Linked DNA regions of Homo sapiens. The protein of the gene in region 2 purifies or fractionates together with the protein of the main gene of each other region. This does not show direct contact. Each region holds a gene or a part of one and is shown on either strand. Other genes may lie near its edges. The genes, in order: TAF5 and SUPV3L1.

Region 1 (3,941 bases), about 34 Mb from region 2:
TGAAATTTTCATAATAAAACTTTTAAAAGTGGGTTTTGAGAAACCATAACATTTAGTAAAGCAAGGGTTCTTATATTTTCAAATGTCTACCAGTTTCTTTTAAATGTCTCCATTCTAAAGAAACTGTCTACCAATGGTGGGTATATTATTTTTCACTTAGGATATTTAAGTTCTTTTCTTAAAATGTTTGTGATACATTTCATTAGAGAATTACATTTGTTCATTTTTAGAATAAATTCAGAAACTGAATTATAGTCATTTTGAAATGAGTTACTTCTTATCCTACAGCTTAGTTCAGGATTATTTAGACTACTACATTGAAAATATTCTGGGATGGTTTATAAGTATATGGGGGAAAGGCAGATCCCTTAATGATTACATTGAAAAATGACTTTTTAAAATCACTGAAACAGGTTCCATGGAGATCAGGAATGTTATTACCAGGATGACCTACGAGTATTATCTAGTCTTACCAAAAAGGAACACATGAAAGGGAATGAGACCATGTTGGATTTTCGAACAAGTAAATTTGTTCTGCGTATTTCCCGTGACTCGTACCAACTCTTGAAGAGGCATCTTCAGGAGAAACAGAACAATCAGATATGGAACATAGTTCAGGAGCACCTCTACATTGACATCTTTGATGGGATGCCGCGTAGTAAGCAACAGATAGATGCGATGGTGGGAAGTTTGGCAGGAGAGGCTAAACGAGAGGCAAACAAATCAAAGGTATGGGAATGAACCTAAGAACTCTATAATGCAGATTATGAAAAATTGTAGCATTTCCATCTACATAAGTTACACATTTTTCTTATAGCTAGCTTGGAAACAATTTTTTTCGTTTGTTTGTTTTGAGACGGAGTTTTGCTCTTGTCACCCAAGCTGGAGTGCAGTGGCGTGATCTCAGCTCACTGCAACCTCCACCTCCTGGGTTCAAGTGATTCTCCTGCCTCAGCTTCCCGAGTAGCTGGGATTAGAGGCACACGCCACCAACCTGGCTAATTTTTGTATTTACTTTAGTAGAGACAGGGTTTCACCATGTTGGCCAGGCTGGTCTCGAACTCCTGACCTCAGATGATCCACCCGACTCCGCCTCCCAAAGTGCTGGCATAACAGGCGTGAGCTACTGCGCCTGGCCGCTTGGAAACAATTTTATACTGTATATAAAATTTTGTGTTCTAAGGGTGATGTTTATATGTGACAATTTGGGTATGGTTGCATTTTATGGAACCCTGAATGCAGTGGCTGAAACAAAGAATTTTTCTCCCATAAAATGAATTTCAGAGGAAGGCCTTCCAGGGCTGGCATGAAGGCTCCACAGTGCCATCAAGGTCCCTGGCTCCTTCTGGTTTCTGATCCACCATCTTCAGAATGTGGCTTTCCTCTTTGTGCTCACAAATGGCTGTTGCAGTTTCAGCATTGCAGCTCCGTTCCAAGAAGGAAGAAGGGGGAGGACAAAAGGCATATCTCTGCTGAAGCTTTCCCTTTTTAATCAGGAAAACAATATTTTTTTGATACAACCATACCCAGTATACTTATATGGACATTCCTAGCTGAAAGGGAGCCTGGGAACAGAAATGATTTAACTGAGCACATTGCTACTCCAATAAAATCAGGGTTCTGTTAGTAAGGAAAAAGGGGAGAATGGCTATTGGGTAGACAAATACAGAACCCTGCTTCAGAGTGTAAATTACTATTTTGTAATTGTGATTTATCCTATCAAGATGTAAAATGGGTATATTAATGAATAAATAATTTTAAAAATGTTGGCTCTTTTGACTTGTAGGTATTTTTTGGTTTATTAAAAGAACCAGAAATTGAGGTACCTTTGGATGACGAGGATGAAGAGGGAGAAAATGAAGAAGGAAAACCTAAAAAGAAGAAGCCTAAAAAAGATAGTATTGGATCCAAAAGCAAAAAACAAGATCCCAATGCTCCACCTCAGAACAGGTGAGGAAAAAACTTCAGGAACTTGTGTGTGGAGGTATAAGACAACATGTTATATAGAGTTCAAGTTTGTTAATAGTCAAAAGGTAATTTTGACTCTCTTTTTCTTTCACAGAATCCCTCTTCCTGAGTTGAAAGATTCAGATAAGTTGGATAAGATAATGAATATGAAAGAAACCACCAAACGAGTGCGCCTTGGGCCGGACTGCTTACCCTCCATTTGTTTCTATACATTTCTCAATGCTTACCAGGTTGGTAAAAAAATTGGGCGATTTCTGCCTGGAGAGTCATGTAGGATGATGATTTACCATTAAGAGAGAAACAAATGTATTAGCTAAAATGGAGTTTCGTTATTTAAACTCCTTTTTTTTTTTTTTCTGAGACAGAGTCTCGCTCTGTCGCCCAGCTGGAGTGCAGTGGCGCGATCTCAGCTCACTGCAATGTCCGCCTCCCAGGTTCATGCCATTCTTCTGCCTCAGCTTCCCCAGCAGCTGGGACTACAGGCGCATACCGCCATGCCCGGCTAATTTTTTGTATTTTTAGTAGAGATGGGGTTTCACCGTGTTAGCCAGGATGGTCTCGATCTCCTGACCTTGTGATCCGCCTGCCTCAGCCTCCCAAAGTGCTGGGATTACAGGCATGAGCCACCGCATGTGGCCCCTAAACTCTTATACAATTTAAAGACAGCATTCAGGAAGAGAGAATTGGATACTGCACAGAATAGATAGAAGTCAATGTTTAATGGCATTTGTTTCACCGATCAGAATTCTGCTAGCCTTTGAGGAGGAGCAAATTGTAGTTCATTTCTGTTGAACTTGGTTTAAGTACTTACGTAAACTTATTTATCAATTTTTTTTTTTTTTTGAGACAGAGTTTTGTGCTGTCACCTAGGGTGGAGTGCAGAGGTGAGATCTCAGCTCACTGCAACCTCTGCCTCCCGGGTTCAAACGATTCTTGTGCCTCAGCCTCGGCCTCCTGAATAGCTGGGATTACAGGCACCCTCCACCATGCCTGGCTAATTTTTGTATTTTTAGTAGAGACAGGATTTTGCCGTGTTGCCCAGGCTGGTCTTGAACTCCTGACCTCAAGTGATCTGGCCGCCTCAGCCTCCCAAAGTGCTGGGATTACAGGCGTGAGCCACCGTGCCCAGCCATATAAACCTTATTTTATTTTATTATTTTAATTTAATTTCATTTTTTGAGATGGAGTCTTGCTCTGACACCTAGGCTGGAGTGCGGTGGTGCAATTTTGGCTCACTGCAACCTCCGCCTCCCAGTTCAAGTGATTCTCCTGCCTCAGCCTCCTGAGTAGCTGGGATTATAGGCATGAGCCACCACGCCCAGCTAATTTTTGTATTTTCAGTAGAGAAGGGGTTTCACCAGGTTGACCAGGCTGGACTTGAATTCCTGAGCTCAGGCAATCCACCCGCCTCAGCCTCCTAAAGTGCTGTGATAACAGGCATGAACCCCCGCGCCCGGCCAAACTTAGTATTTTATTTTATTATTATTTTTTTTTTGAGATGGAGTCTCACTCTGTCGCCCAGGCTGGAGTGCAGTGGCACGATTTTGGCTCACTGCAACCTCTGCCTCCTGGGTTCAAGTGATTCTCTTGCGTCAGCCTCACAAGTAGATGGGATTACAGGTGCCCACCACCCTGCTTGGCTAATTTTGGTATTTTTAGTAGAGATGGGGTTTCACCATGTTGGCCAGGCTGGTCTTGAACTCCTAACCTCAGGTGATCCACCTGTCTCAGCCTCCCAAATTGTTGGGATTACAGGCATGAGCCAGTGCGCTTGGCCAATATTTTAAATCAAGAATTTTAAAAGTCTTTATATATTCCTTAAAATAGAGGATTGAGGAGATATTTAGTATAGTGTGAAAATGATTAACATTTGCTTCCTATCTCTAAATATCCTAAAATAGTATTGTTTAGTCTAACCCTTTTATTGGCAGGGTCTCACTGCAGTGGATGTCACTGATGATTCTAGTCTGATT
Region 2 (2,892 bases):
AACTTCGTTGAACAAGTGTAGGCTGGCCTTTGGACAAGGGAAGACCACCCTACCTAAAACAGCCCTTCCCTGCCACTCAGCATCACTCTTTCCTTATTCTTTCTAGCATTCATCTCTAAAATTACACCCATTCATCTCACAAAGAATGATTTTGCTTCTGCTATATTCCAGATACTGTGGATGCAGTAGTGAAATAGACTACAATCTCTGCCCTCACCGATCTGACAGGATTTATTTGTTAACCTGTTCCTGTCTCTCCTACCAAATATGAGATCCATGAGGGTAGAAGATTGTCAGTCTTGCTTACTGCATATTTCCAGCACCTAAATAGCCTCTGGTATATGGGTACAACAGACAGCAATGTTTGTCAAAGAACTGCATCCATGACATCCTCAGCATGGCATAGGAAACTGGTCAAACAATTCACCAAAGTGATTTTATTCCCATGCAGAGTTCCTTATAGTGCACTGTCTTAGTACTATTCTACAAATGGCCATTATATAAAGACTTAAATTAAACCTCCATGATATCCTAGTATTTTCTAAATGTTGAAAAAAAAAAAAACAAGTTTAGTCATCAAGAGAGATTTTTCTGTGCAAAAAAAGAAAAAACAAACAAACACACACACAAACACACACACACACCAAAAATCCCCCAGTACCAGATAGCCACAATACTAGAGGAGGGAGTAAATGCATATGAGGAAAAAGGATTCAAAATAAATTTTTATTTGCAAAATTAAATAAAAAAAAAAAAACAGGAACAGAAAACTAGTCCGAATCAGGTTCCTTCTTCTTTCTTCTCGTCCCTTTTGGATGAGTCCCAGACTCTGTTTTTTCTTTGTTGTGTTCAGTTTGTTGTGTCATCCACTCTTTTTCTAGCTGTTTCAGCATGTCTGGAGTGAGGAGTCCTTGCTGCACCAATCTGGAAGCAAGGGACAGCTCTCCTGCATCGGGGCTGGGTGGCTCAGTAGCTTTACTCCCTAGAGCTTTGGTGCCGCGTGTCCTTCTAGCTTGGCTCTTTAAGGTTCCTGACAATCGTGACTGGCTCCCTGATGGAAAGCCCTCCAAATTCAACAGCTTATGCGTCTCAGACATTTTAATCAATTTAGTGATATTGTGCACACCATCTTGGATAATACCATCTAGTTCTTTCTGGAGATCTCGAATAAGGCTGGCATCTGGAAACATATCCATAAATCGGTAGCTGGGAAAAAGACACATTAGCATTATAGCAACAGCTCTTATCGCAGTCACTGGACAACTCTCAATGGCACACCTACATCATGACATTGATAAATTCTAAATGTTCTTTTTGCAAACTCTCTTCAGTGCCTTTGCTCAACCTTGATTTCTGCCCCCACATATCGGAGGAATATGTCATCCTGAGGGTGGGTCAGCACTATACCTCAATAGACTCTGATATACTCCTGGAGAGGGACATGCCCCTCCTTTGAGAATCACTGGCCTAGAACAGGACTTCTCAAATGATAATGTACAAGTGAATCACCCAGGGATCTTGTTAAAATGCAGAATCTGATCAAGTCAGGCATGGGCCTGATACTCCTTAGTTCTAACAAGCTCCCAGGTGATACCAATGCTTTTGGTCCAAGGACCATCCTTTGACCAGCAGGAGTCCAGTGGACCTTCCTTCTCACCTAGCCATCTTAACTAGAATTGCAAGAACTCAAGTCATTTTTGGAATGGGAAACCATTCCATCAGTTGAATTGCCTTTATGGACAATAGACATAATATAGAGCATCTTGCAAATATGTCCATAATTTGAAATAGAAAAACAAATTCATAAAACCTTTAATTTGTCCTACTAGAAAAATGAGAGCACATAAAGGAAAAATGTTGGTACCTTAGCCACAAGTAAAGATCCAAGACATCGTGGACAGCTTCAAGATCCATGAGGTCTTTAATATTCTTAGGTGGAAGTAAAGGCCATTTGATGTATCGGCGTAACCATGCAAAGGTCAGGGGCTCATTCCTGCTATACTGCCTGGCAAACTGAGAGAGAAAGAGGAAAAGGGTTTCAGAGAAGTGTCAGAATTCCCTTAAGTCTATAATTAGAAAGAGAAAAAAAAGAAAGCAAAACAAAACATTGTGGTTGTATTTCAATAGACAGGTGGTTTCTTTTCTCCTTTATACTCTTCTACATTTTAAAGAACATTTAATACTTTATAAGGCCAGGTACAGTGGCTCACGTCTATAATCCCAGCACTCTGGGAGTCTGAAGCGGGTAGATCACTTGAGCCCAGGAGTTCGAGACCAGCTGGGGCAACATGGAGAAACCCCATCCATACAAAAAACACAAAGAATTAGCTGGGCATGGTGGTGTGTGCCTGTGATTCCATCTACTCCTCAGGAAGCTGAGGTGGAGGATTACTGAGCCCAGGGAGGTCAAGGCTGCAGTGCGCCATGATCGTGCCACTGCACTCCAGCAGTGAGACCATTTGGAGAAAGAAAAAACAAAAAAAGATGATTTCCTTCTTTTTCTAAAACCAGGGTAATAATATGTGCAGCAGAAGTTCAAGGGCTACTCTGGGCACACTACCTATAGGGTATCCCTGCTCCACAAGGAGCAGTTAAAAAAAAAAAGAAGCTGTAGAAGGACTAACTTTCCAGGGCCTAAGTCTGTTAACTCTTATTTAGGAATATGTGATGTTCTAAAGCTATGGACAGACAGTACCTGAAGACTCCTATTTCTATCTCATATGTAATAGTCCTATAACCTCAAATACGAGCTTAAGTTTCTCTATCTTGTTAATGTCCTCCCTTATTTTTTATTTTTTTGAGACGGAGTCTCGCTCTGTTACCCAGGCTGGAGTGCAATGGCACGATCTTGGCTCACTGCAACCTCCGCCTCCTGGGTTCAAGTGATTCTCC

Evidence for each region.
Region 1: the proteins of SUPV3L1 (region 2) and TAF5 fractionate together in Homo sapiens (co-fractionation; one large-scale study listed by BioGRID). This does not show direct contact.

The regions. Positions count from the first base shown.
Region 1 is NC_000010.11:103,377,822-103,381,762, forward strand, and holds part of TAF5 (transcription initiation factor TFIID subunit 5), read left to right. Parts: intron 1-413; coding exon 414-729; intron 730-1,786; coding exon 1,787-1,950; intron 1,951-2,062; coding exon 2,063-2,198; intron 2,199-3,899; coding exon 3,900-3,941. UniProt on the Homo sapiens protein: The TFIID basal transcription factor complex plays a major role in the initiation of RNA polymerase II (Pol II)-dependent transcription.
Region 2 is NC_000010.11:69,206,914-69,209,805, reverse strand, and holds the end of SUPV3L1 (ATP-dependent RNA helicase SUPV3L1, mitochondrial), read right to left. Parts: intron 2,014-2,892; coding exon 1,865-2,013; intron 1,207-1,864; coding exon 771-1,206; 3' UTR 713-770; downstream 1-712. UniProt on the Homo sapiens protein: Major helicase player in mitochondrial RNA metabolism. Component of the mitochondrial degradosome (mtEXO) complex, that degrades 3' overhang double-stranded RNA with a 3'-to-5' directionality in an ATP-dependent manner.